Homo sapiens: one gene and its partners. The protein of the gene in region 1 purifies or fractionates together with the protein of each later gene. This does not show direct contact. Each region holds a gene or a part of one and is shown in the gene's direction. Other genes may lie near its edges. The genes, in order: MILR1, PLAA, INPPL1 and GLMN.

The links.
Region 2: the proteins of MILR1 (region 1) and PLAA purify together in Homo sapiens (co-immunoprecipitation; 3 studies listed by BioGRID and IntAct, with this or other methods). This does not show direct contact.
Region 3: the proteins of MILR1 (region 1) and INPPL1 purify together in Homo sapiens (co-immunoprecipitation; 3 studies listed by BioGRID and IntAct, with this or other methods). This does not show direct contact.
Region 4: the proteins of MILR1 (region 1) and GLMN purify together in Homo sapiens (co-immunoprecipitation; 2 studies listed by BioGRID and IntAct, with this or other methods). This does not show direct contact.

The regions. Positions count from the first base shown.
Region 1 is NC_000017.11:64,444,188-64,452,136, forward strand, and holds the start of MILR1 (allergin-1 isoform Allergin-1L precursor), read left to right. Parts: upstream 1-4,927; 5' UTR 4,928-4,981; coding exon 4,982-5,036; intron 5,037-5,126; coding exon 5,127-5,168; intron 5,169-7,949. UniProt on the Homo sapiens protein: Immunoglobulin-like receptor which plays an inhibitory role in degranulation of mast cells. Negatively regulates IgE-mediated mast cell activation and suppresses the type I immediate hypersensitivity reaction.
Region 2 is NC_000009.12:26,937,155-26,944,246, reverse strand, and holds part of PLAA (phospholipase A-2-activating protein), read left to right. Parts: intron 1-7,092. UniProt on the Homo sapiens protein: Plays a role in protein ubiquitination, sorting and degradation through its association with VCP. Involved in ubiquitin-mediated membrane proteins trafficking to late endosomes in an ESCRT-dependent manner, and hence plays a role in synaptic vesicle recycling.
Region 3 is NC_000011.10:72,227,727-72,234,818, forward strand, and holds part of INPPL1 (phosphatidylinositol 3,4,5-trisphosphate 5-phosphatase 2), read left to right. Parts: intron 1-463; coding exon 464-527; intron 528-621; coding exon 622-772; intron 773-1,000; coding exon 1,001-1,121; intron 1,122-1,281; coding exon of another isoform or gene 1,282-1,363; coding exon 1,364-1,504; intron 1,505-1,738; coding exon 1,739-1,832; intron 1,833-1,936; coding exon 1,937-2,026; intron 2,027-2,197; coding exon 2,198-2,293; intron 2,294-2,394; coding exon 2,395-2,545; intron 2,546-2,635; coding exon 2,636-2,742; intron 2,743-3,069; coding exon 3,070-3,172; intron 3,173-3,266; coding exon 3,267-3,463; intron 3,464-3,771; coding exon 3,772-3,889; intron 3,890-4,513; coding exon 4,514-4,610; intron 4,611-4,899; coding exon 4,900-5,038; intron 5,039-5,148; coding exon 5,149-5,248; intron 5,249-5,348; coding exon 5,349-5,437; intron 5,438-5,714; coding exon 5,715-5,796; intron 5,797-5,928; coding exon 5,929-6,018; intron 6,019-6,554; coding exon 6,555-6,668; intron 6,669-6,800; and 2 more. UniProt on the Homo sapiens protein: Phosphatidylinositol (PtdIns) phosphatase that specifically hydrolyzes the 5-phosphate of phosphatidylinositol-3,4,5-trisphosphate (PtdIns(3,4,5)P3) to produce PtdIns(3,4)P2, thereby negatively regulating the PI3K (phosphoinositide 3-kinase) pathways.
Region 4 is NC_000001.11:92,260,914-92,268,005, reverse strand, and holds part of GLMN (glomulin), read left to right. Parts: intron 1-3; coding exon 4-93; intron 94-1,264; coding exon 1,265-1,306; intron 1,307-1,412; coding exon of another isoform or gene 1,413-1,466; intron 1,467-1,513; coding exon 1,514-1,587; intron 1,588-3,367; coding exon 3,368-3,452; intron 3,453-4,273; coding exon 4,274-4,383; intron 4,384-5,079; coding exon 5,080-5,143; intron 5,144-7,092.

The DNA.
Region 1 (7,949 bases):
CAACAAAGAATGTATGCAGGGGACGGGGTGCTAAAGACATTCCTGGGGGCAGGGACAAGCGGAAATGAATTATATTCATGCCTATTGGATATTTTCTTTGGATTTTGTATGCTGTTTCGATTTTTATAATTTTTTTTCTTAAGGAAAAAAACACATATTTTTTTCTTAAGGAAATAGACACTGGCCAGGCGTGGTGGCTCACGCCTGTAATCCTAGCACTTTGGGAGGCCGAGGCAGGGGGATCACCTGAGGTCAGGAGTTCGAAACCAGCCTGGCCAACATGGTGAAACCCCATCTCAATTAAAAATAAGAAATAAGCCAGGCATGGTAGTGCATGCCTGTAATCCCAGTTACTTGGGAGGCTGAGGCAGGAAAATCGCTTGAACTGGGGAGGCGGGGAGGCGGAGGTTGCAGTAGGCCGAGATTACACTATTCCACTCCAGCCTGGGCGACAAAAGTGAAACTCTGTCTCAAAAAAAAAAAAATAGACACTGTTGTTGCAAGCCTATGGGTTGCCTGAGGGCAAGTATGGGCTCCAGGTAGGTCTTTTGAGGAAAGGATCTTGTTTTTATCTTTCATGTAAAAGTTACTTTATCTTTCTCAATACCTCAGTGGTTTTGAACCCAAGCCTCTGGGAAATGTCCCAACCTCCTGTCCTCACTCAGTGCACCATACTACCAGGCTTAGAGGAGGCTCTTTCTCCTTATGGAGGACCAAGGAAAGGTGTTGTCAAGGTCTGCCATTATCCCATCTTTCCTCCTTCTCCATAATAGGAATATTAATGCAGAAAGAAATAATTGAAAGAGGAGCGGCCAGGCGCAGTGGCTCATGCCTGTGATCCCAGCACTTTGGGAGGCCAAGGAGGGCGGATCACCTGAGGAGTTCGAGAACAGCCTGGCCAACATGGTGAAACCCCGTCTCTACTAAAAATACAAAAATTAGCCAGGCGTGGTGGCAGGCACCTGTAGTCCCAGCTACTTGGGAGGCTGAGGCAGGAGAATTGCTTGAACCCAGGAGGCAGAGGTTATAGTGAGCCAAGATCATGCCGTTGCACTCTAGCTTGGGGGACAAGAGCAAGATTTCATCTCGAAAAAAAAGAAAGAGGAGCTAGAATAAGAAAATAAAAGCTGGAGAGAATGTGGAGAAATAGGAACGCTTTTACACTGTTGGTGGGAGTGTAAATTAGTTCAACCATTGTGGAAGTCAGTGTGGTGATTCTTCAAGGATCTAGAACTAGAAATATCATTTGACTCAGCAATCCCATTACTGGGTATATACCCAAAGGATTATAAATCATGTTACTGTAAAGACATATGCACACGTATGTTTATTGTGGCACTATTCACAATAGCAAAGACTTGGAACCCACCCAAATGTCCATCAATGATAGACTGGATTAAGAAAATGTGGCACATATACACCATGGAATACTATGCAGCCATAAAGAAGGATGAGTTCATGTCCTTTGCAGGGACATGGATGAAGCTGGAAACCATCATTCTCAGCAAACTATCACAAGGACAGAAAACCAAACACCACATGTTCTCACTCATAGGTGGGAATTGAACAATGAGATCACTTGGATACAGGGAGGGGAACATCACACACTGGGGCATGTCGGGGGGTTGGGGGTTAGGGAAGGGATAGCATTAGGAGAAATACCTAATGTAAATGATGAGTTTATGGGTGCAGCAAACCAACATGGCACATGTATACCTATGTATCAAACCTGCACATTGTGCACATGTACCCTAGAACTTAAAGTATAATAATAAAAAAAATAAAAATAACATTCTACTCTCCAGATATAGCTATTGTTAACATTTTGAGAAAATATCCTTCCAGATAGTTTTTCTCTTTCTTTCTTTCTTCCTTTCCTTTCTTTTCCTTTTTTAATTTAGAGACAAAGTCTCATTATGAGTCTCCCAAAGTGCTGAGAATACAGGCATGAGCCACTGTGCCCGGCCTCCAGATAGTTTTTCTATGTATACAAATTATGCACTTTCTTATTTAGAAAAATGATTTATGTTATTACAACTGTTAATAATACCTTTTCTCTTTTCTTAAGTATATTGTGATTCTCTTACCACATCATGAAATGTTCTTCTACATCACCATTAAAAATTCTTTTTTTTTTTTTTTTGAGACAGTGTCTTTCAAAAGTGCAGTTCTGAATCAAGGCAGCCTTGAAGTCTTGTTATTATGGCAAGCCCTCCAGTGCCAGGAGAACTGAGGTAGGAGTAAACTCAGATCAGCCTTTGAAATAGAATGTGTGAGGCCAGGTGCAGTGGCTCATGCCTGTAGTCTCAGCACTTTGGGAGACTGAGGTGGGTAGATCACTTGAGATCAGGAATTTGAGACCAGCCTGGTCAACATGGCGAAACCTCATCTCTAGTAAAAATTAAAAAAATTAGCTGGGCGTGGTGGCAAGTGCCTGTAATCCCAGCTACTTGGGAACCTGGGAACTGTGGAGGTTGCAGTGGCCCGAGATGGCGCCACTGCAGCTATTACTCCAGTTTGAAAATACTAGAAGTTGCCAATATATATTTTTTCCATTGCCAGACTTGTCTGCAATTTGTACTGGATCTGATAGAGAAACCATTTCCATGGGTCTATATGAAAATGTGGAGCCGGGGGTAGTGGCTCACGCCTGTAATCCCACAACTTCGGGAGGCCGAGGCAGGCAGATCACCTGAGGTCAGGAGTTCGAGACCAGCCTGGCCAATGGGGTGAAATCCCGTCTCTACTAAAAATACACAATTTAGCCAGGTGTGGTGGCACGTACCTGTAATCCCAGTTACTTGGGAGGGTGAGGCAGGAGAATCCCTTGAACCCAGGAGGTGGAGGTTTCAGTGAGCCGAGATAGCGCCACTGCACTCCAGCCTGGGCAACAGAGCGAGACTCCATCTCAAAAAAAAAAAAAAAAAAAGAGAGAGAAAGAAAATGTGGGTGCGGGGAATGATTCTATGGTTGTCTGTTCTTTTCCAGCTGGCCAGCAGTGGTAGCCAAAAAGTGACAGGATGCTGATGAAAAACATTGCAGACGTGAAGAAAAGAAAAAGTTGATGGAATTTTGCACATGTATCTGACAGTTCACCCATCCAAACTTTTATAAAGTGCTGTAAAGTTGTTGTAGTAAGGGTGGGGCATGGTGGTTCATGCTTGTAATCCTAGCACTTTTGGAGGCCACACGCAGGAGAATCGCTTGAGCCCAGGAGTTCAAAACCAGCCTGGGCAATATAGTGAGACTTCATCTCTATAAAAAAGTTAAAAACCTAGTAGTGTATGGTGGTTTGTGCCTGTGGTCCCAGCTACTAGAGAGGCTGAGGTGGAAAGATAGTTTGATTCTGGTAAGTGGAGATTGCAGTGAGCCAAGATGGTGCCACTGTGCTCTAGCTTGGGAGACAGAGCAAGATTCAGTATCAAACCTCCTAGCTAGAGGATGCTAGCTAGGTGACGCTGAGTCAATAAGGAAGGATTTGGTTACATCTTGGGACCTAAGGTACAGAGATGAATGTCCCAGCTCAAGGCTGCCCCAGCCATTCAACTCCTTGCTTCCTCTCTTGGTGGACCTGTCAATTCTTGCAAGTGTCAACCAGCTGTCTTGCCCACCTAGCCCTATAGTCATACCTTTCTATCCTTTTGGTGATCTCCACTCCATCAAGAAGTGGCTCTGCACATTCTATTTCAACTGACTTTTTTTTTTTTTTTTTGAGACAGAGTTTTGCTCTATCACCCAGGCTGGAGTGCAGTGGTGCAATCTTGGCTCACTGCAACCTCCACCTCCCGGGTTCAAACGATTCTTCTGCCTCAGCCCCTCAAGTAGCTGGAATTATAGGCACGCATCACCACACCCAGTTAAGTTTTTTGTATTTTTACTAGTGATGGGATTTCGCTGTGTTGGCCAGGCTGGTGTCAAACTCCTGACCTCGGGTGATCCGCCTGCCTCAGCCTTCCGAAGTGCTAGGATTACAGGCATGAGCCACCGCACCCAGCCTGCACGTTCTATTTCAAAGGCTGATCTAAGGTAACTCCTACTTCAGATCTCCTGGCACTGGAGGGCTTGCCGTAATATCAAGTCCCCAAGGCTCCCTTGATTCAGAAATCACTGAGGCAGCAGCACCTTGTACAGATATTTCTCAGCCTTCACTGTGCGTAAGAATTGCTCAGGGCCCTTGTTTAAAAAAAAAAAAATCAGCGTCCTGGACTTGAAACCCAGTAAGTCTGGAGTGGGGTCTAGGAATCAACGTTTAACAAAAGCAGGCATTTTTGGCCAGGCACAGTAGCTCACACCTGTAATCCCAGCACTTTGGGAGGCTGAGGCGGGAGGATCACTTGAGCTCAGGAGTTTAACACCAGCCTGGGCAACTAGACCCCTGTCTTTACAAATAAAAATAATTAGCCAGTCCTGATGGTGCACACCTGTGGTCCCAGCTACTCAGGAGCCTGAGGTGGGACGAGCACTTGAGCCCAGGAGTTTGAGGCTGCAATGAGCTATGATCACAGCACTCCACTCCAACCTGGGTGACAGAGTGAGGCCAGTCTCAAAAAAAAAAAGCAGGCATTTTTGATACAATATTTGTATGTATCTGCTTAAGACAGTCGGTTTGCTTCCAAAGACTAAATCAAACTTCCACCAAACTCCTTTTGGCATAGACTGAGTCCAGAGCAAGGAGATCAGATGGGTTTACATAGACAATGTAACAGTCAGATTTACCTCTTCTCTTTCCCAGCCAGCATGGGACGATGTGGGGGTGTGGGGGGGTGGGGGGGGCGGGGGAGTGGCAATCTACCAAATATCTCTCTTCTTACAGGAACTCACAGAGGAAGACAGATTGGTCGAACAAACCAGTATTATGCAAACCTCATCCAAACCCTCTGATTTCCTTAACTTGGCTAAGAAAAAGAGGAAGTTCTCCGAGTTACTCACCACTGTGGTTCTACTATGCCTTCTGACCCCGTCTTGGACTTCAACTGGGAGAATGTGGAGCCATTTGAACAGGCTCCTCTTCTGGAGCATATTTTCTTCTGTCACTTGTAAGCCCCCCTTATCATTCTGAGGCTCGAACCTCCAAGCCAACGTGTCATGTGGAAAGTGAGCTTTATCGTGTTCCTTTTCTGTTTCAGGTAGAAAAGCTGTATTGGATTGTGAGGCAATGAAAACAAATGGTAAGTTTCATTTACTTCTTTCTTATTGAAACCATTTTCACTGAAGTGGTGAGACAGTCTGATTGCAACATAAGCGTCCATTCAAAAGTGTTTCTGAGCTTTTATGAACAACCAAAGAACAGTCTTTTCAATTATCTATCATTTAAAATAAAATGATTTTAGGGAGGGGATTGCAGCATTTTTTTCTGAGACTCAGTGAGAAAAATAATGAAATTTGTTTTCACAATGAAAGTTTTCTAACTTTCCTTGTTATTGTTGTTTTATGGTTGTTGTGTTTTAACTAGAAAGCCAACACACAGGCTGGGTGTGGTGCCTCCGGCCTGTAATCGCAGCACTTTGGAAGGCTAATGGGGTAGGATTGCTTGAGCTCAGGAGTTTGAGACCAGCCTGAACAACATAGTGATACCTCGTTTCTTAAAAAAATAAAACAAAATAAAAAAACCCACAGAATTATTGTGAAATAATTCAAGCAACACTAGAAATATACATTGGGAAGTGGTCTAACCTCTGGTTCTACTAGTTACTAGCCAGCAGCCTGAGCTCATGACATACCCAGTTTGACCTTAATTTCTTTCTTTCTTTCTTTCTTTCTTTTTTTTTTTGAGATGGAGTCTCAGTCTGTCGCCCAGGCTGGAGTCAGTGGTGCAATCTCGGCTCACTGCAACCTCTGCCTCCCAGGTTCAAGTGATTCTCCTGCCTCAGCCTCCCGAGTAGCTGGGACTACAGGCGTGTGCCACCAAGCCTGGCTAATGTTTTGTATTTTTTGTAGAGACGGGGTTTCACATCGTTAGCCAGGATGGTCTCGATCTCCTGACCTCGTGATCCGCCCACCTTGGCCTCCCAAAGTGCTGGGATTACAGGCGTGAGACACTGTAATTTATTTCATCTGTGAAGTGGGCTAATAAAAGCACCTACCTGGTAGGCTAGTGTGCAGATCAAATGAGACAATCCCTGCTCCTCGTCACAGTGCCAGGCATATGGTAAACCATCCGTAAGTGATAGCCAAGGTGGTGGTTGTTACTGTATAAAATGTAAAAGTTCTGTTACAATCCTCCTCCAATTCTTCTCCCCTTCCTATCCAGAAGCAGCCGTTATCAACAGTCACTTTATATTCGTTATCTTTTTTTGTTTGTTTGTTTTTGAGACAGAGTTTCACTCTTGTTGCCCAGGCTGGAGTACAGTGGCACAATCTCGGCTCACTGCAACCTCCGCCTCCTGGGTTCAAGGGATCCTCCTGCCTCAGCCTCCCGAGTAGCTGGGATTACAGGCACGTGCCACCATGCCTGGGTAATTTTTGTATTGTTTTTTGGTAGAGACGGGGTGTCATCATGTTGGCCAGGCTGTTCTTGAACTCTTGACCTCGTGATCCTCCTGCCTCTGCCTCCCAAAGTGCTGGGGTTACAGGCATGAGCTACCACACCAGCCTTAGCTCCTCTTTTTCAACAGCTGCATGGTATTTTAAGACTCAGCCATGATTCGTTTAACCATCCTTATTTATTGCCCTGCTTTTTGGGGGCAATATAAACAATGCTACAATAAACATCCTTGTACACAACGTCCTTTGTGGATGCATGAGAGCTTGAAAGCATCTCTGTAGAATGAAATTCTAGAATTGAAATTGCAAGGTCATAGGGCATACACATTTAAATTGTTACAGACCCTGCTAAGTTGCCCTCCCAACAAGGCTGATCGTATCCTATCAGTCACCAACGGTGGGTGAGTTTCCCCACCCACTCCCCAGTGGTGGATATAATCACTTTTACTTTTAAATTTTATTTAGGGTTTTTTTTTTTCTTTCTTTCTTTGAGACAGAGTCTCTGCTCTGTCGCCCAGGCTGGAGTGCAGTGGTGCGATCTTAGCTTTCCGCAGCCTCGACCTTCCAAGCTCAATTGATCCTCCCACCTCAGCCTCCTGAGTAGTGCCATACAGGTACGCACCATCATGCCCAGCTAATTTTTGTATTTTTAGTAGAGACAGGGTTTCACCATTTGCCCAGGCTGGTCTCGAACTCCTGGACTCAAGAGATCTGCCTGCCTCAGCCTCCCAAATTGCTGGGATTACAGGCATGAGCCACCATGCCTGGCCAATCATTTTTAAACTTTGTACCAATCTGATGAGTGAAAAATGATATCTCAGTGTTGTTTTAATTTGCAGTTGCCTCATTACTTGTGAAGTTGAGCATCTTTTTCATGTTTACTGGCCACAAAAGCTCTAGCATTCCTAGATAAAAAAAACTTAGGGATGGCTATTTGGTTGGAAAGGTAGTTTAGGTCTTGTCTTAAAGTTGAGTTTATATGGCGGGGCACAGTGACTCACACCTGTAATCCCGGCACTTTGGGAGGCTGAAGCAGGCAGTCACTTGAGGTCAGGAGTTCAAGACGAGCCTGGACAACATGGTGAAACCCTGTCTCTACCAAAACTACAAAAATTAGCTGGGCATGGTGGTGTGTGCCTATAGTTCAGCTACTCAGGAGGCTGAGGCAGGAGGATCAGTTGAGCCTGGAAGGTGGAGGCTGTGGTGAGTCAAGATGGTGCCACTGCGCTCCAGCCTGGGCAACAGAGTGAGACTCTGTCTCAAAAAAAAAAAAAAGTTGAGCTTATATAAGACTGAGAAAATGTTAATTGTCCAGATCAAAGAGTGGGAGGAGAGTTTACTGCATTTTTAAAAGCATTTTTGAAGAGTCTAAATCTGTCTTCCACCCAAGCCATCCATTGGTCCCAGCTATGTTTTTTTTTTTTTTTGTTCTGTTTTGTTTTTTAAAAATTAGAGACGAGGTCTCA
Region 2 (7,092 bases), on another chromosome or scaffold:
CGGCATCTTGAGAGGGCCTCTTTGCTGCTGTATCATCCTATGGTGGAAGGGTAGGAGAGCACACAGCAAGAGGCGCAGAGGGGCCAAACTTGCTTTTGTAACAAAGCCACTCTCTAACCCAGTCCCGCAATAATGACATTAATCTATTCATGGCGGCAGAACCCTCTTGATCTAATCACCTCTTAAAGGTTCTACTTCTCAACATGGTTGCATTGAAGGTTAAGTTTCCAGCACATGAACTTTGGGGGACACGTTCAGGCCATAATAGAATATTTGTGTGATTTTGTTTTTTTGACACAGGGTCTTGCTTTGTTGCCCAGGCTGGAATGCAATGGCATGATCACTGCCTTATTGCAGCCTCGACCTTCTGGGCTCAAACAATCCTCCCACCTCAGCCTCTTAAGTAACTGGGACTACAGGCAAGAACCACTATGCCCAGCTAATTTTTATTTATTTATTTTTGTAGAGATGAGCGTCTTACTAGATTGCCCAGGCTGGTCTCAAACTCCTGGGCTTAAGCAATCCTCCTGCCTCAGCCTTCCAAAGTGTTGGGATTAAAGGTGTGAACCACCACTCCCAGCTCATAACAGCATATTAATAGAGTTAATGAAATGCTATAAATGTTTGGAGTGAAGTCGTAAATGAAATTTGCTTTCCCATGTAGCCAAGTGGTAAATGAAATTTACCACTGTAAATTTGAATCAGTACCACTGATTCAACTTCAAATTCTTTGTTCATTACTGAATTGCCTCTTACTGAATCTGACCTGGTCTGTCTACCTCTGATGCAAATGAATTTACCACTGCTTTCCATGTATGTTGTTGCTAAGGTTCTAGATCAGGGTAGTAAATGTAGGGATGGACTGGGAATAATGGGGAAAGTTAGTTCTAGGGAGGCAGAAATAGTTCTGTTTTAGAGTAGACTAAACCAGGTACCTAGTCTTTCACAAAAGCCCTTTGAAAACCCAGAAAGTCTTTGGACCTTCAGAGTGGAGACATATCTGTTGGTTGGGCATTGAACTGAGCCAGCAACATGCCATTGTTTCAGACTACTTCAGGTCTCTATAAGCTAGCTTCAAGCTAAATTACATTTCCCAAGTCTGTCGTTGACTTCTGGGTGGGGAGAGATGAGTGAGATAGGACTTCAGCAGCTTTGCCTTTATATTGCCTTGCCTTTTGAAAAACGACCCATGCTTGAAGACACATCTTCAGATATAGGATCTGATTATATTAATCTATATTAATAGATTTTTTAGTTGTAATCTATTAGTTCCTACTGTAGAATATGAGAATTTAGCTCTCTTTCTGCCTTCCACTCACCCCATCACGTATGCATCTTTTTCTGTGCCTTTTTTTTTTTTTTTTTTTTTGAGACGAGTCTCGCTCTGTCGCCCAGGCCGGAGTGCAGTGGCGCTGTCTCGGCTCACTGCAAGCCCCGCCTCCCGGGTTGACGCCATTCTGCCTTAGCCTCCCGAGTAGCTGGGACTTTAGGCGCCCGCCACGGCGCCCGGCTAATTTTTTGTATTTTTAGTAGAGACGGGGTTTCACAGTGTTAGCCAGGATGGTCTGGATCTCCTGACCTCGTGATCCGCCCGCCTTGGCCTCCCAAAGTGCTCGGATTACAGGCGTGAGCCACCATGCCCGGCCTCCGTGCTCTGACTCTTATAATTTAAGCTGTGGAATAATCTATGATAACTCTTCCTCAACAATTTTATGATCTGCATGTGGCTAATAATTGTTTTATTTTGGTTTTCATTTGCTTAGCTTACTATGTATTTATCACTGAGTCAATTTCAAAGTCTTTGTTCGTTACCGAATCACCTCTTAAGGCCTTTAGATACATTGGATATTTTACAATTTCCTCTCCTGACAATGCAAACTTTCTGACCTGGTCTGTCTACCTCTGATGCACAACTAATCCTAGGATTTCCCTTCATTGTTGTTTCCAAAACAACTTTTTTGAACCTCATATGTTGGATTTTTATTGTCAGTATCCTTTAGCTTTCTCTTGGTTGGTTTTCTTCCTTGTTGCCTTATTGGAACATAACCTCTAAGAGCTTCCTGAAATGTAGTGCATCAGTAATAAATGTTTTAAGACCTTGCAAGTCTGAAAGTTATTTTATTTTGCCTTGTTACTGGCATGATAATTTGAATGGTTGTAGCATTCTAATTTTAAAATAATTTTCTTTCAGAATTGTGATGGAATCCATTGTATTTCATCTTCTAGTGTTACTGTTGAGAAGTCTGAAGCCATTCTGATTTTTGAACTATTTTTTTTTTCTTTCTGGAAGGCAGTCTACTTCTATCCATTGTTCCAGGCCATTGGCGGGCCCTTTTAATATGAAAACTCATGTCCATAAATTCTGGGAAATGTTCTTCAATTAATTCTTTGGCTGCTTTCTCTTTATTTTTTCTGTCTTCTTTTTTCTGGAACTGTTTTTATTCAGATATTGAACTTGCTTTCTAAATTTCTCTCTTTTTTTTTTTTCTTGGCTGTAATCTCTAGCAGGTTGCCTTGACTTTGTGAAATTATGTCCTTGTTTCATGGTTGCAATATCTTATACCTCTAAGGATGATAATGACAATTTAAAAAAATGTTTTAAGGTATTTCCTCCTTAATGGTCTGTTTTCCTCCATATTGGTTTTTTTCTCATCTCTATTTGTTTTGATCACTGTATTTCATGCTGGAGGCTTTCCCCAGATGTCTGGTAATCTTTATTGTGTGCTCAGTGTTATGGGTAGAGAATTAAGAAGCTCCTGGGAGATCTGTGCTCCTGGATGGGGCTTGCTGGTTGTGAGTTTTACTGTTGAGTTATCTGGTAGGGCCATTATATTGGGCTGATCTGCTGCCTAGAGGATGAGGGTATGGTTTCCAGGGTTTTCTTTTGGTGGTCTTGGGCTCCAGTAGGAATATACACATTCTTCACACTCCCAAGACTCAACTATCCTTATGTCCCCCCATTCAAAGATTTTCTTTTTAAAGAAAAAGCTTCAGACTTTTGCTGAGTACTAGCAGGACAGTTGTCTGGCTGGGTTGTCTAGCTGCACATCCCTCCCCCACCCCCCGTGTTTTGTTTTTGTTTTTTTTTTTGTCTTAATACCTTAAGTATTTTTTAAAATCAGTTTAAGAAATACTTAATGCTAACCATTTAAAACATTGTGCTAGGGACTTGGGAAGACACAAAGAACCTAATCTGGATTCTGCCATTAAGAACTTCACAGACCACTACCGAAGATGCACACAAACATCTATGCTTTGAAGTGTTAAGGGTTACACATAGTGGGTAGATTTAGTGGTTTACATAATACAGATTTTAAAACATGTTCTATCTTTTGACTTCCTCTGGGCTTATTGATAAAATGGTTTCAAAAGCATTAAAAAACAAAAACAACACCCCCTAAAATGAAGTGAACAAGTTGAAATTGGTTACTACCAGGTATCTTTCTTTGAAGACTTTTTCATAATGCTTCAGATTCTGAAGACTTTCGATTAGTCTTTCTTATCTTAGTTCCTGCCTCTTTGTCCTCACCTCTGGAGGTATATAGTGCTGTTAATTCTTTTCCTCCAGTTTTTTTATTGTGATACAATACACAAAACATAAAATTTGCCATCTTAACCATTTTAAACTGTACAGTTCAATGGTATTAAGTATATTCATAATGTGTAACCATCACCACCATCCATCTTTTAACTCTTTTTATCTCTTTACACTGAAACTGTACCTGTTTAAGCAATAACTCATTGTCTCCACCCCCAGACCCTGGCAACCACGATTCTACTTTATGTCTGTATGATTTTGACAGCTCTAAGTTCCACATATAAGTGGGATCATACAGTATTTGTGTTTTTATAACTGGCTTATTTCGTTTAGCACAATGTCCTCAAGGTTCTTCCATGTTGTAGCATATGTCAGAATTTCCCTCCTTTTTAAGGCTGAATAAAATTTCATGTTTATACCACATTTTGTTTATTCATCCATTGATGGACACTTAGGTTGATGCCACATTTGAGCTATTGTGAATAATGCTACTATGAATATGGTTATACACATATCTCTTTAAGATCCTGCTTTCATTTCCATTGGGAATATATCCAGAAATGGAATTGCTGAGTCATATGGTAATTTTATTTTTAATTTTTCTAGGAATTTCCATACTTTTTTCTGTAGCAGGTGTCTTTGCTTTCACGTAGTATATTCTGTATGTCTGTTAGTTCTAGTTGATTTATTTTGTTAAGTCCTCTTTTTCCTTACATGTTTTCTGTCTGATTATTCTATCCATTATTGAGATTGAGATATTGAAGTCTTCAACTATTATTGTAGAACTATCTATATATCACTTCAATTATGTCAGTTTTTGTTTTATATATTATGTGCATAAATGTTTATAATTGTTATATCTTCTTCCTGTACCGAACTTTTTATTAATATATAATATCCTTCTTTGTCTCTTGTTTTCTTTTTTTGATTTAAGGTCAATTTTGTCTAATGTTAATATAGCTGCTCCTGCTTTCTTTTGTTTGCTGTTTTCATGGAATATCCTGTTTCATCCTATCACTTTCAGTATATTTGTGTCTTTGGATCTAAAGTGAGTCTCATAAACAGCACCGAGCTGGATTATGTTTTTTAAAATGGTTTCTGCCAATCTTTGTCTTTTGATTGGAGAATTTAATTCATTTACATTGAAAGTAATCACCGATGCCATTTTGCTGTCTGTTTTCTATATGCCTTAAAGTTTGTTTGGTTTTTTTTTTTTTTTTTTTTGGTCTCTCATCTCCTGCATTACTGTCTTCTTTTGTGTTTAGTTGATTTATTTATTTATATGTTTGTTTATTTATTTATTTTATTTTTATCTTTTTTTGAGACGGAGTTTCAGTCTGTGGCCCAGGCTGGAGTGCAGTGGCGCAATCTCGGCTCACTGCAAGCTCCACCTCTTGGGTTCACGCCATTCTCCTGCCTCAGCCTCCCGAGTAGCTGGGACTACAGGCCCCTGCCACCACACCTGGCTAATTTTTTGTATTTTTAGTAGAGATGGGGTTTCACCGTGTTAGCCAGGATAGTCCCGATCTCCTGACCTTGTGATCCGCCGGCCTCAGCCTCCCAAAGTGCTGGGATTACAGGCGTGAGCCACGGCGCCCGGCCTAGTTTATTTATGTTTAAATTCCTTCCCCATTTCCTTAGTGTATATTCTATTTTTGTGTGTGTTTACCATGAGGATTATATTTAATATCCTAAAGTTGTAATCCTCTAATTTGAATGTATACATTTAACTTCAATAACAAACAAAAATTCTTCTTTATAGCTCCATCTTCACCCCTTTTGGTTGTTGGTGTCACAGAATTACATCTGTATGTACTCTGTGTCCTAAAAACATAAAGTAATAATTACTTTAAATGCCTTAATTTCTGAAATTATGTAGGAAAAATTTGGAGTTACAAACCAAAGTTACAATATCATTAGCTTTTAGGCTAATTTTTTTAATGTAATGTTTCTTAAATGACATAGAAATCAAAAGGTAGAGTTATAAACCACTATCGTATTTACCATTATTGAGATCTTTATTTCTTCATATTGCTTCAAGTCTGTCTAGTGTGTTTTCATTTCACTGTGCGAGAAGGCTCCTTTAAGCATTTCTTACAGGGAGGTCTCATGGCAGCAAACTCCCTCACCATTTTTTTTTTTTTTTTTTTTTTTAAGAAATGGTGTCTTACTCTTTTGGCCCAGGCGGGCATACAGTGGTACAGTCATAGCTCACTTAAGTCTCAAACTCCCAGGCTCAAGGGATCCTCTCGCCTTAGCCTCCCAAGTAACTGGGACTACAGGTGTGTACTATCACACCTAGCTAATGCTCCAAAAAAATTTTTCAAGATGGGGTTTCGCTATGTTGACCAGGCTGGAATGCAGTGGCTGTTCTTGAGTGTGGTCGCAGCACTCTGCAGCCTCCAACTTCTGGGCTCAAGCGGTTCTCCTATCTCAGTCTCCTGAGGTGCTGGGACTACAGGTGTGTGCTACTGCACTCAGTTTGACCTCCAAAGTTTTTGATGAGAAATCTACTAATTATATTATTGAGGATCCCTTGTATGTGATAAGTTACTTCTTTCTTACTGCTTTCAAGATTCTTTGTATCTCCCTTTCTTAAGTTTGAATATAATGTGACTTGGTGTGGGTCTCTTTGAATTTATCTTCTTGGAGTTTGTTGAGTTTCTTTGGATGTTTATATTCATGTCTTTCATCAAATTTGGGATGTTTCCAGCCATTATTTCTTCAGATATTCTCTCTGCTCCCTTTCCCCTCTCTCTAGGACTGCCACAATCTGTATGCTGGCCTACCTCATGTTGTTCCACAAGTCCCTTAGGCTCTGTTCATTTTTTTTTTTTTCAGTCTTTTTTTGTGTTCTTCAAACCTGATAATTTCTACTGTCCTATGTTCAAGTTTGCTAATTATTTCTTCTTGCTTGAATCTGTCTTCAAGTTGTCTAGTGAATAATTTCATTTCAGTTATCATACCTTTCATCTTCATAATTTCTTTTTGGTTTCTTTATAGGTTTTCTGCCTCTTTACTGATACTTCAGTTTTCTTCATGCATAATTTTCTTGACTTTCTCCATCTTCCTTTAGTTCTTTGAGCATGTTTAAAACAGTTGTTTTAAAGTCTCTGTCTAGTAGATCTGCTGCCAGGTCTTTTTCAGGGACAGTGTCTATTGACTTAATTTTTCCTTTGAATGGGCCATACTTTTCTGTTTATTTGTATGCGTGTGATTTTTTTGTTGTGGTTGAAAGTGAACATTTAATCTAATAATATAACTCTAGAAATCATATTCTTCCCCTTTTCCAGGGTTTGCTGTTTTTTGTTATGTTTTTGTGTATTATCTTTTTGTTGTTGTTGTTGTTGAAGGGTGTCTTTGTTTCAAATATCGGGCTAAGATGTAAACTTAGTCTTCTCAGTCTTTTCTGAGCCTGTGCTTTTCCCTGGGCATGCACTTTCACTTTCTAATTTTTTCCATATATGTAGTTCCTTTTGAATATCTTAGTCTTTATTATCTTGCTCCCAGAAGAGGAAAATGAAGGTGTTAGGGGAATGGACATCAGCCTTTTT
Region 3 (7,092 bases), on another chromosome or scaffold:
TACCCGACTCCAGCAGAGCCAGAGAGCAGCATAAACACAGGAGGCATACACACGTGTTAGCACGTTGCCCGTGTGTGCAAATGGGCTAACCAGGCTTCTGAAGACTCTTACTCTGGCGGGGAGCCCAGACTGGTACCACAGCCCAGAGGGGCTGTTTAGACAGCTGTGGAGGCCACAAAAGAGCTCCCTGTTGCTTCTCAGGCCCTGCCCTGTGGTGGGTGTGGAGTCTGTGTAGGTCTGGTGGGGAGACGGGGGTGTTCTGGTCATTCCTGCCCAATAGGCAACACCAGGAGGGTGGAAGTGGACCGGCCACATCATTAACCCTGTGCAGCCTGGGCAGGTGGTTTTAGGGAAACCAAGCTGAGGGGGTTGGGGTGCTGAGCTTGCTGGCAGGAGGAAGGGGTGCTTTGGGTCTTAGACCCCAGCCTGGGGGTGACAGATTCTGGCCCTGCCTTGGCATCAGGTATCAGAAGCATGTGCACACGTATCGCATTCTGCCTGATGGAGAAGATTTCTTGGCTGTGCAGGTAGGAGCTTGGGCCCCTGACCCCTGACCTTGATCCAGCCTAGGGCTTGGGGACCTGCTGGCTGACCCTTCCTCCCACCCTTGCTGGCCCACAGACCTCGCAGGGTGTGCCTGTGCGCCGCTTCCAGACCCTGGGTGAGCTCATCGGCCTGTACGCCCAGCCCAACCAGGGCCTTGTGTGCGCCCTGCTTCTTCCTGTAGAGGGTGAGCGAGAGCCGGACCCACCGGATGACCGGGATGCCTCAGGTACTTCCCAGTGTGCAGGTCCCCTCCCTGCCCCTGTCCCTTGGCTCTACCTGCCTCTTCCCATCCCCCCTTCTCAACCCCACCTCTCCTGTAACCCCCTTTCCCTTGGCCATGATGCCGGGGCCCTTTAACCCTCTTTCCATGGAAGTCACTTTACAGCTGCATCGTGCCTCCTACTCCACTGAGTGTGGGAGGCCCAAACGGCTGCCCACTGACCCCTGCCCACAGATGGGGAGGATGAGAAGCCCCCGCTGCCCCCGCGCTCTGGCTCCACCAGCATTTCTGCCCCCACTGGGCCCAGCAGTCCCCTGCCAGCTCCTGAGACTCCCACAGCTCCAGCTGCTGAGAGGTGAGACCCCCATCCCATCCACTGAACAGGAGACCCTTTCTCCTCTGAGAACTATTTCCCTACCAAAGGTGGGGAGGCCTTCTAAGACCCCACCAGGGACCCCCACCCCACCTCAGCCCAGAGGCAGATAACCTGATCCATCCCGCCCTGGTTGCCACAGGTACTATCTCCTCTAGGGATGGGGCAGAGGTGCTGGGACAGGTCAGCAGGACCTCCACTGACTTCTTAACCCCTCCCCAAAGTGCTCCCAATGGGCTGAGCACCGTCTCGCACGACTACCTGAAAGGCAGCTATGGGCTGGACCTGGAAGCTGTGAGGGGTGGAGCCAGCCACCTGCCCCACCTCACCCGTACCCTCGCTACCTCATGCCGGAGGCTGCACAGGTATCTGGGACATCCAGCCCCATGTATTACACCCTTACCTCTGACCTGTCCTCACCTGCTTCCCGGCTGCACAGGTGCCCTGATCTCTGATCCTGAACAGTGAACTAGCCATTGCCTCTTGACTTTCCTCACTGGTAGCCTTTATCCTTGTGGTGAGGTTGAGGCTACACCCAGCGCCCCCTTCCCTATACTTAGGTCGGGGTGGGAGTTCTTTTGATCTGATGTCTTCCCTAGTGAGGTGGACAAGGTCCTGTCAGGCCTGGAGATCCTGTCCAAGGTGTTTGACCAGCAGAGCTCGCCCATGGTGACCCGCCTTTTGCAGCAGCAGGTAGATTGTAGGGAGACCTCTGGGAGGTGCGTTCGTGTTCTGGAGCTGGGTGGGAGGCTCTGCTTAGGTGACTCATGTACAAGCCTGGTTCTTCCTCCCCCCAGAACCTGCCACAGACAGGGGAGCAGGAACTAGAGAGCCTGGTGCTGAAGCTGTCAGTGCTAAAGGACTTCCTGTCAGGCATCCAGAAGAAGGTGGCATGATCTCTGACCCTTGACCCCCGATTCACTGGCCACTGTCATTGGCCTAGCACTGATCTCAACCCTCAGTCTACAACTTAACATTGGCCCCAAGGTCAATTGTGTCCCTCCCTGCCCCAGCCTTCAGTGTGTCCCCTGACCCCGCCCTGCCCTTGTTCCCTCCAGGCCCTGAAGGCCCTACAGGACATGAGCTCCACAGCACCCCCAGCTCCGCAGCCATCCACACGTAAGGCCAAGACCATCCCCGTGCAGGCCTTTGAGGTACATGGCAGTGGGGCCTCACAGGGCCAAGGGTGGTTGGAGGTGACCAGGGTGCTGCCTACTCCAAGGTCTTGTCAGCAGCCTCCCCACCTGGCCTACAGGTGAAGCTAGATGTGACCCTGGGTGACCTGACCAAGATTGGGAAGTCACAGAAGTTCACGCTGAGCGTGGATGTGGAGGGTGGGCGGCTGGTGCTGCTGCGGAGACAGCGGGACTCCCAGGAGGACTGGACCACCTTCACGCACGACCGCAGTGAGCCAGGGCCAGACCTGGGAGGGGTGGGCAGGGCGGAGCCCCTGGCCTAGGGGCACAGGCCCATGTGACCGGTCCTCCATGCCCTAGTCCGCCAGCTCATTAAGTCCCAGCGTGTCCAGAACAAGCTGGGTGTTGTGTTTGAGAAGGAGAAGGACCGGACTCAGCGCAAGGACTTCATCTTTGTCAGTGCCCGGGTGAGCAGCAGGCTGGGCCAGGCCACTGGGGACTGCGGGGGTCCCCCACATGGGTGCTTCCCATTGGAGGGTAAGAAAGGGAACACATGATGTAGGCATGCCATCCCTCCTGGCAGGGGTAGGTCTGACAGGGTAGAGGGTGTTGAGAACGGGTGGCCTGAGGGTGGATAACATTTGCCAGCACTGTTATATGCTTGAGCAGTGGGTATGCAGTGGAGAACCAGACAGACCCTCTCCTCATGGACATGAGCCAACTGGCAGGGTATCCCTGTGGACGGGGGGCTTCCTGGATGCCTACCCGCCCCTGAGTGGCTGCTGTTCCCCCAGAAGCGGGAGGCCTTCTGCCAGCTGTTGCAGCTCATGAAGAACAAGCACTCCAAGCAGGACGAGCCCGACATGATCTCAGTCTTCATAGGCACCTGGAACATGGGTCAGGCCCGGGCTGGGGCTGGGGCGGGAGAGAGGGATGGCCCCAGAGCAGGTGCCTAACCCCTCCAGACCCACCTCACCCCCTTCACCTCCAGGAAGTGTACCACCTCCAAAAAACGTGACATCCTGGTTCACATCGAAGGGTCTGGGGAAGACCCTGGACGAGGTCACAGTGACCATACCCCATGACATCTATGTCTTTGGGACCCAGGAGAACTCAGTGGGCGACCGCGAGTGGCTGGACCTACTGCGCGGGGGCCTCAAGGAGCTTACGGATCTGGATTACCGCCCGGTGAGGGGGGGTCATCTTGTCCAGGACCCTGTCCTCACACACCACCTCCAAACTAGCCTACTTGACTTCATGGGCAACCCTGGGAGCACAGCTTCACTGGCTTTTTCTCTGGTCCCTGAGCATATCCTTTGGGAGATCTGACCTGAGTCCTTCATGCCACGAGAGGAACCATTTCTCTCCAGTCCGTCAGGAAGAGGGGTGGCAAGCCTTCCTACCCTGTGATGGACACAAAAGTCTATTTATAGTGCAGGGGGAAATGCAGGCAGTGGGTGCAGCAGGGCAGTGGTGACCATGCACTCTCTACCCAGATTGCCATGCAATCACTGTGGAATATCAAGGTGGCAGTGCTGGTCAAGCCAGAGCACGAGAACCGTATCAGCCATGTCAGTACGTCCAGTGTGAAGACTGGCATCGCCAACACCCTGGGTAAGTGGGGCTGGCAGGTGCCCAAGAGTGGCAGCGTCTCTCTGTCCATGGCTTCTGCTTCCTCTCAAGCCTAGGATTGCCCCATTTTTGGTGATCTTAGTTTCCCCATATATAGGGTACTTTGAACTTTGAAAAACATATTCATATTCTAAATCTCTCCCAGCACCACTGGGAAGGCAAGGCCAGGATAATTACCCCCTTTTCACAGATGATAAAACTCAAACCCAGAGTGGTTGAGTGACCTGCCCAAGGTCACACAGCAAGTAAGTGGTGGAGCCAGGCATTGTGCCCAGGTCTCCTGATTTTCGGTCTGGTGCTCTCCCAGGTAGATTCTGCGCAGAATCTGCAGGGCCTTTCAGCTTCACCCTTGGGGTCCCCTGTGATCTCCAGGGGCTCTGCTCACACATACAGACAGACTCAGGCCATCCACACAGACCATGTGTGCCCAATGAGGACCCCCCCCTCCCCCAGGGAAGGTGTGGGTGTGTGCAGGGGCCTGCCCATGTCACAGCGTCTGGTGGGCTCAGCGGGAGGATCCTCTCACTGCAGCTTTGAGAGGCAGAAGGGAGAGTTGGGAGCCCTCTGAGGATGACCCAGGCCTTCCTCTCTTGCTTGCCTTAACAGGGAACAAGGGGGCTGTGGGCGTCTCCTTCATGTTTAATGGCACCTCATTTGGCTTTGTGAATTGTCACCTCACCTCGGGAAATGAGAAGACGGCTCGGTGAGGGGGCGCCTTTCCCATGGTCTCTTTACACCCATCCCATTCACCTGAGGCCTGTTCCCGCTCCCATACCCTAGCCCATGACCCTCCCGCAGGCCTGTCTCCAGAGACCCCCTGCTCTCTTATCCCAATTCAAGACCCTTCTGTTCCTGACCCTAACCTTGTCCCCAGGGGCCCGGATCTTTACCCCATCCCTGACTCCTGAGACTTCTTCCCTTTATGCCTATCCCTGACTTCTGGCCCTGACCCTGGGGATCTACCCCTCCCCACCACGCACCCCTCACCCTAGGAGGAACCAAAACTACTTGGACATCCTGCGGCTGCTCTCGCTGGGCGACCGGCAGCTCAATGCCTTTGACATCTCTCTGCGTTTCACACACCTCTTCTGGTTTGGGGACCTCAACTACCGCCTGGACATGGATATCCAGGTGCGAGCAGGGCCCTGCCATGGCTGTAGGGAGGCTAAGGGCCACATGGGCTATCACCCCTGGCTCTGGCTCCGGAGGAATGTTTCTAGCCTTTGTGTCCTCCACCCCAGGAGATCCTGAACTACATCAGCAGGAAAGAGTTTGAGCCCCTCCTCAGGGTGGACCAGCTCAACCTGGAGCGGGAGAAGCACAAGGTCTTCCTTCGATTCAGTGAGTGTGGGCCTGGTAGGTGGTGATCTGAGGGCTAGGAGACTTGCAGTATCCCTGGGTGTCAGGGCCCTGAACCCCACCTGTCTCCTGCTTTCCTTAGGTGAGGAGGAGATCTCCTTCCCACCCACCTACCGCTATGAGCGGGGTTCCCGGGACACATATGCCTGGCACAAGCAGAAGCCAACTGGGGTGAGCCAAGAAAACGGCATGGGCCTTGGGGGACCGCAGGCCTGCGATGAATCAAGAATTTGGGTCAAGGGTATGGGCCTCTGCAGCTTCCACTCCAGCCTCCATGGCCCCTCTGAGGCCTTTGGGTGATCCTGGGTATTTTGAGGATCCAAGAAGGGAGGTGGGTGCTAGGGCCTCTAGTAATAGAAGTGTGGGGACTCATCAGCTCTGGAGTGGGGTCCATGCCAAGCAGCCTCCTAGCTGTCAGCTCTAACCATGCTGCCATCCCCTGCCCCAGGTCCGGACCAATGTGCCCTCATGGTGTGACCGGATTCTGTGGAAATCCTACCCTGAAACTCACATCATCTGCAATTCTTATGGTCAGAGCCTCCCGGACAGAGTGATGGGAGATCTGGGGTGGTCACCATCTGGACTCTGCCCTAACCTTGGGAGGTGGGAGCCGAGGGTGGGAATATTCCCCCTGAGTCCCCATTCCTATCCCCTCTCCCCAGGTTGCACTGATGACATCGTCACCAGCGACCATTCCCCCGTGTTTGGGACATTTGAGGTTGGAGTTACCTCCCAGTTCATCTCCAAGAAAGGTGACTGTTCCAGATATGCTTGTGGGTGTGGCATAATCTAGGTGGGCACAGGTGGTGGCCTCGGGATGTACATAGGTTTGACTATGTAAGTGTGTGTGTGGGTGTGTGTACCAGTGAGTGCAGGAGTGTTTCTCAAGGTGTGATGTGTCAGGGTGTCTGTGCGCCTGGGCCATCACAAGAGTTGTGTGCCCATGAGTGTGTGTGCATACGTGAGTGTACACCTATCTATGTGTCTGTGTCTGTCTAGGGCCACGTGTGTGTCCCTGAGTATGCCTGTAGGTGTGGGAATCCTGCAGGCATTCTGGTCCCCAGCACCCTCTTCAATGGGTTTTTTATCCTTGGGTTGTCTCTTTGCTCTGGTCCAGGGTCTGGCCTCTGGAGATTCCCTGTTGGTGGCTTGGGACTGGGGAGGCCCCTCCTGGCCCTGCCTCCTTGCTCTGGACCCCTGATTTCCTGTCCCAGGGCCCTGTTTCTCTGTCCCATTCCTCCTGTGATCCTCTCAGTCCTCCTGTTTGTTCTCCTCCCTTTCTCCTCAGGGCTCTCAAAGACTTCAGACCAGGCCTACATTGAGTTTGAGAGCATCGAGGCCATTGTGAAGACAGCCAGCCGCACCAAGTTCTTCATCGAGTTCTACTCTACCTGCCTGGAGGGTCAGAGGCGTGGCAGGGGCTGGGTGTGGGCCAAGGAGGATGGGAGGCAAGAGGGTGCAGTCAGCCCCCTACTTAGGGGGAAAGGAAGCTGAGAGGTGGTGCTCAGTTGGGTGTCTCCCACCCCCACCCCAGAATACAAGAAGAGCTTTGAGAATGATGCCCAGAGCAGTGACAACATCAACTTCCTCAAAGTGCAGTGGTCTTCACGCCAGCTGCCCACGGTGAGGCTGTGGGCAGGGCCCCTGCTTATGGGTGAGGGCACAGAGAGGGGTACATAAGAGTTTATTGGAGAGCCTGCCTGGGAGGGAGTGTGGGGCCAGCAGAGAGAGAGAGAGAGAGTGTGTGTGTGTGTGTGTGTGTGTGTGTGTGTATGGGCATGGGCATGAGTGAGGATAAAGGCGTTTGCTTTATTTTGGGAGTGTGG
Region 4 (7,092 bases), on another chromosome or scaffold:
TAGGAGCTGCTGGAGAATAGTTTATTGAGAATAGAAGACAATAGTCTACTTTACCAGTACTTAGAAATCAAGAGTTTTCTTACTGTACCTCAGGTAAATAAAATATGTATTCTAATATTGAAAATAGCCCTTTGCCTGTTCTGAACTTAAAGTAAGGTCTTTTCTGATTCCTTTCCCACTCTTTTCTCTGCAACCTTTGAAAACTCTGGTGTAATGCTGTCCAGTAGAACTTTGACAATATGAAAGCCACTAGCCAAACTGAACACTTGAAATGTGACTAAGGAACTATTTTTTTTTTTTTTGAGGTGTAGTCTTGCTGTGTCGCCCAGGTTGGAGTGCAGTGGTGCTATCTCAGCTCACTGCAAGCTCCACCTCCTGGGTTCATTCCATTCTCCTGCCTCAGCCTCCCGAGTAGCTGGGACTACAGGCGCCCGCCACCACACCCAGCTAATATTTTTGTATTTATAGTAGAGACGGAGTTTCACTGTGTTAGCCAGGATGGTCTCGATCTCCTGACTTCGTGATCAGCCTGCCTCAGCCCCCCAAAGTGCTGGGATTACAGGTGTGAGCCACCACACCCAGCCGGAACTAAGTTTCAAATTTAAATTTTAATTTATTTAAACACGAATAGCTATTAGAGGCCACCATTATTGATAGCACAGCATCCAGTAGAAAAGCATAACTTTCTTCTTTTAACACTTTATTTCTGTAGGGATCTTGGAAAATGAAGCTTCTTTATGTTTCTCATAACTCAAGTTCTCAGGACTCCATCTAAGGCATCCACTGACTCATTACCAGAAAGACTAATACACATTGTGTTTTTCCCTCCTATGGTTTATTTTGCCCAATCCTCTTTGTTAGTTATGATATCCAAGGAAATCCTTAGATTTCAGTGTGGGAACTGGTTTTCCTAATATTTAAATAGAAAAACATGGTTTTTGTTAACATATTGTTTGATTGTTTTTAATTAATAAATTATATTTCTGTAGATTTGATTTCATTTTCTTGCCACTGTAGACATAATTGAAAATTATCGTTTGCTTTTAAAAGTACACTGTGTGACACTCTACTCAATATCACTTAAAAAATCAATTGTAGTTAGCTTTCTGGAATGGAAGGCTTAGGGAAAAATTAATTTACTTCACTTTTAAATCTCCTACCCTCACTTCTCTGAATTTTTAGTATCCTATTGATGTATTATAGTTGTTTGTTTGCAGTCAGTATAATCTGTTTACATCTGAATTTTACATTTTTTTATTTCCAGGGCTTAGTGAAAGTAATGACACTTTGCCCCATTGAGACACTGGTATGTAAATATTTGGTGACTAAAGAATAATGAGTTACAGTGAGAAAATTTGACAAATAATTTAATTTTCTTTTTAAAAATTTTAATTTGTGAAATTTTTATTTAGGAGGTACAAGTGTGGATGTATTACATGCATAAAATGGATAGTGATGAAGTCTGGGTAAGCTTTATTCATTTTATATAATAATATTGTTTGTTCCATTTTAGAGGAAAAAGAGTTTAGCTATGCTTCAGCTGTATATTAACAAGTTGGATTCACAAGGCAAATATACATTATTTAGGTATGTATCAAGCATGGCTAATTGCTAAGTGTGTGGTTGATTAAAAGTCATGTTAATGCCATGTAATTGTTTTAGGGCATAGTATGTCGGTATGTTTTACATGTAATTCAACTCTGGTTGGAACCCATATTATAAATTCTCAGTGATGGCTAGAGAAAGGGTTAATCAAATATTTCAGACATACTATATATATGTCTATATTTTGTATGACTAATAGTATATATTGCAGTTCAATCAATTGGAATACTCTAAATTTGAAATAGACTTAAAAATAATTAAACTGAGATTGATGATGCTCCTGCTGGAACTTTATGTATGTCACTAATCTCCATTACTCACAGTTCAAATTGATGGCTCTGGAATTACAACTTTGATAGGCTATGCACTATGTTAATAGTAAGAGCTTACTAATACTGCTCTTTGAGGTGGATAAGATTCTAGCAACTCTCTAAGTTAAAGATTGGTAAACTTTCTAATTAATTTTCTGTGAAGAGCCAAATAGTAAATATAGGTTTTATGGGCTATACAGTCTCTGTTGCAAGTGCTCAACTTTGACTTTGTATTGGGGATGGGTGTGTTCCAGTAAAACTTTATTGATAAAATTGGGCATCAGGCTGGATTTGCTAAAATGTCTTACCTGGGATTGGCCAATATTAGTACTGTTCTTTTTTGGCGGGTGCAGCAGTGTGATCATGGCTCACTGCAGCCTTCACCCTTGGCCCCCCAGCTTCAGGTGATCCTCCCGCTTCAGCCTCCCAGGTAGCTGGGACTACAGGTGCATGCCATCATGCCCAGCTAATTTTTTTGTGGAGATGGGGTTTTGCCATGTTGCCCAGGCTGGTCTCAAACTCCTGGGCTCAAGCGATTCACCCACCTCAGCCTCCCAAAGTGTTGAGATGACACGCATGAGCCATCATGCCCAGCCAACACTCTTGATTCTATCTTTTCTTGTTTTCTATTGATAGTAAGAGCAAGTTTATGAAATCTCAATTCTTAGGTATTATACCGGCTTTCCTGTTCTGTTCTATGTGTATCTCTACCAATAAATCCCCTTTTTTTCTTAAGCTAGTCATATCTAGTTTTTTTTTTTTTTTTGCAATTAAGCTACTCTAGCACTGGACTACTTTCACAGGAAATAATTTGGGGATTTTTTAGACCATTATGTTAGTGCCCTTTCTTGCCATGTTAAATTATTGTAACTATGTTCATAAAAATATTCAAATTTTGGTTTGATAGAAATGGCTTGTTGGAAGATCCAGTTATAAATAAGTATTTACCGGCCGGGTGTGGTGGCTCATGCCTGTAATCCCAGCACTTTGGGAGGCTGAGGCAGGCGGATCACGAGGTCAGGAGTTTGAGACAAGCCTGGCCAACATGGTGAAACCCTGTTTCTACTACAAATACAAAAAATTAGCCAGGCACGGTGGCGGGCGCCTGTAATCACAGCTACTCAGGAGGCTGAGGCAGGAGAATCGCTTGAACCCGGGAGGCGGAGGTTGCAGTGAGCCAAAATTGTGCCACTGCACTCCAGCCTGGGCGACAGGGCGAGACTCTGTCTAAAAAAGTAAAATAAAATAAATAAGAATTTACCATTTAGTGAGAGCAATAACTATTACAGGTGACTTTGTAATTGGTTGATGACCTTGCTAATTACCATTACTGTGGGGTTTTTATTCCTAGAAGTAACACATGGCCTCTTTGAATTTGTAAAACTTTTATCACCATTTAATTCTAATGCTGTCCAGGATAATTTCACATCTATTGTAATTTTGCTTTCAAGGTGCTTATTGAATACAAGTAATCACTCAGGTGTGGAGGCTTTTATTATTCAAAATATCAAAAATCAAATTGACATGTCATTAAAGGTAAGAACATAGCCAAAGTGTCAATTACCAATTTATTTCGTAGGGTATATTTATTCATATGTAGAATACATTAATGTGAGTTATTGCTCTATCTCTAGTATTACTATTACTTAAATATTATTAAGGCATATTTTTTCCCCTATTTCTACTATGTTTTAAAAACTCTGAATTTGGAAATTTAGTTAACTATAAGTTTAAATTGTATTCTTTGAGGTTTTGGTTTTTGTTTTTGTTTTTTTTGAGACAGGGTTTCACGCCTGTCACCCAGCTTGGAGTGCAGTGGCATGATCTCAGCTCACTGCAGCCTCCACCTCCTGGGCTCAAGCAGTTCTCCCAACTCAGCCTCCCGAGTAATTGGGACTACAGGTGTCCACCAGTGCGCCTGGCTGAATTTTGATTTTGTAGAGATGGAGTTTCACTGTGTTGCCCAGGCTCGTCTTGAACTCCTGATCTCAAGTGATCCACCCACCTTGGCCTCCCAAAATGCTGGGATTACAGGTGTGAGTCATCACTCTGGGCCTCTTTGAGCTGATATTGTGGCTTATTTTTGCTTTGTTATATGCTTCTCAAAAATGAATGGAAACTTAAGTCTCTTCTGTTTCTGAGTGCTCAGTAATTCTAAATGGAAAACAGAGTGACCAGTGTTCTCAAACTGGCAGGGTTCGTTCCTGGTGTCTGGAAAGTGAATGAAAGTACGGAAATTAAAGTTAAAAACTGTATTTTAAATGTGCAATTCTTCATTTTTGTAGTGTCAAGGTATTAGAAAAACACATGAATTACATGAATTATAAAGCTTTCTCAATTTTTCGTTTGCTTTTCAGAGAACACGTAACAACAAATGGTTTACAGGACCACAGTTGATTTCCCTTCTTGATTTGGTACTTTTTCTCCCAGAGGGTGCAGAAACAGATTTACTGCAAAACTCAGATAGGTGAGGTGACCATTACCAAAGTTCACATAGTAAATTCAGAATAAAATGTGAAACATCTGCTTAGGGAACCTAAAGTAATAAAATGTCTTTTCCTGTGATTTTATGATCTATGGCTAATTCATTAAGTTACATAAAGATTTTTCATATTTAAGTGATTTGATAATGTGTAGAAACAAAATTAAAACCTCCTCTTTCTAGATGAATGACCAGCACTATGATTTGATAGCTTTTATGTACCCAGCATTCCATAGAAATTTGCAATGACAGCACTTGTGACTTAAAACTAAAAATCTGTGTATGTAATTTATGTGTTTAGGTTTTGTTGTTTTATTGTTTTCCAGGTCATTTTTTTTTTCATATAGAACATATAATTTCAGTTTCAGTATACTGGAATGGATATTGAGAAATGGTTTAAAGCATTTAAAAAGTAATCTTAAAATTCAGAAAGCAAGAGATGATGCTCTCAAATATTAAAGATAACAAGGCTTTCTTTAAACAAGGATGATAATTTTCACAATTGTATGATTTAAACAAATGGAAAACAGTGATAAGTTATTACTACTCAAAAAGATATTAATGGAAATAGTTTCTATTGGCAAACCTAATTATAAAAATATGACCAAAGTTTTAGCTTATTGAGATTGCTGTTGACTATATAAAACCATACTGTAAGTAACATATATTTTTAATTAACAGGATTATGGCTTCATTAAATTTATTGAGGTATTTGGTTATCAAAGATAATGAAAATGACAATCAAGTAAGTGAAGTATTTGAAAAGAAACTGTGAGTATATTCAAAAGGCATAAGGAATGTTTCAGATATTCAGTACCTAAAGCCAATATTTAATATCTTACCCAGATATAAAGGCCGGGAAGAGTGCCAACAATTATTCTGAAACCTGAAGTTAATTCCCAGGAGCATTTACCACCCCACATCCAGCTTTCCTTTCCCTTTCCATTTCCTATTGTACGTCTGCTTTCTTGCTGAAAGCACTTAGTCCTGTTGGGTGGATAAGTTGCAGGTCCTAAGTCAACTAACCTTGTGGAGCTCAACGTACATATGGTGTCTTGTTCAGTTTCCTCCACCTATAGCTCATGAGCTGTATAAAATCATCTGATATTTTAATATTGCCTCATCAGACATGACAAATTGAAGCATTTTCAGCACTAAAACAGAATTTGTTAACAGCACCTTTTAGATATGTTTAGGAAGTTGGATTTTTTAAAAATAGCACATCATTAGAAGTATTCAATAAATAGAGAAGTATTCAATAAATAGAAAACTATTTGAGGGAGATTTGTCATACAGTAAAATTATATTTGCTTTTTATCTTCTCTTTCTACCCTGTTCTGATCATTGCTTTCCCTATATGTGTCACCTCTATTAGCTAGAACTACCTGAATCATGTGTTGTTAATTGGTTTTTTTTTAGTAATTCATTTTTATATAAAGATGCCAAAGAAAATTTTTTTTAAATTAGGTAAATCGTGATTTGGGATGAAGGTTTATGAGAAAAGTAGCAGTCTCTTTCCTTCCTGACAGATCTATAGTAGATTCAGTGATTTGAACCCCCGTTCATCCCTCTTCAGCTGAAAATAGCTATTTGCCATCATTGACTAGTGCTTACTCTGTATCAGGTGCTATTTTTTTTTAACATTTTGTTGTGAAACTTTTCAAATGTACAGCAAAGTTGAAAGAATTTTATAGTGATCATTGGTTTACCCACCACCTAGAGTCTATGATTCTACTGTACTAACTTCATCATGTATCTATCACTCCACCCTCTGTCTATCACTCCGTCAGTCTATTTTTTGATGTATTTCAAAGTAAACTGCAGACGTCAGCATACTTTCTCCGAAATATTTCAGCATGTATTTCATTACATTGATTAAATATTTGTCTGTAGTTTTTCTTTGAAGTAAAATTTACATAATGAAATGTTCAAATTTTAAGTGTATATTCACTGAATTTTAACTAATACATAGATCTATATTACTCAAACCCATATCAATATAGAACATTTCCAGCATCACAAGAGGTTCCTCATACCCCTTCCTAGTTAATTCTGACCTCGTTGTGCTACTCACCCCTGCCAGGGACAACCACTATTCTGCCCAAGTGCTGTATATCATTCATTCTTCAGAGAGCGTCTCGTTCTCTTGCCCAGGCTGGATTACAGTGGTACAATCATGGCTCACTGCAGCCTCGACCTCCTGGGCTCAAGAGATCCTCCCACCTCGGCCTCCCAAAGTGCTGGGGTAACTTCCAGGCATGGGCCACCATGGAAAACCAAGAAAAGTACTCTTTATTTTTCACTTTTCATAGATAATGTAGGTGAAAAAAGTTCATTAACTTGCACAAGGGCAAACATCTGGAAAGTGGTAGAAATAGCTATGACCCCAGGCAGTGGCCAGAACTTTCTAAATCACAAACTAAATCCTGATTCCTGAAGGAGCTTGTGATAAAAATTGAAAAGCTACAATATAAAATTCAGCAGCAGTAGAGGCCCTGAGACTTCAGGAAGGTGGCCTTAGGGTAGGGTATGAGTTTTTATTTTTTTAGTAATCAAGAAAGGCTGTACCTACTTGAGAGATTATCTGACTTGCCTGACAAAAAGAAAAGGAATCTTGTTGATTAGGATTGATAGGTGTGTTAGATATGGAACACAGAGTAATACAAAGGCAGCAGATTGGTCTCTGCTTAGAGA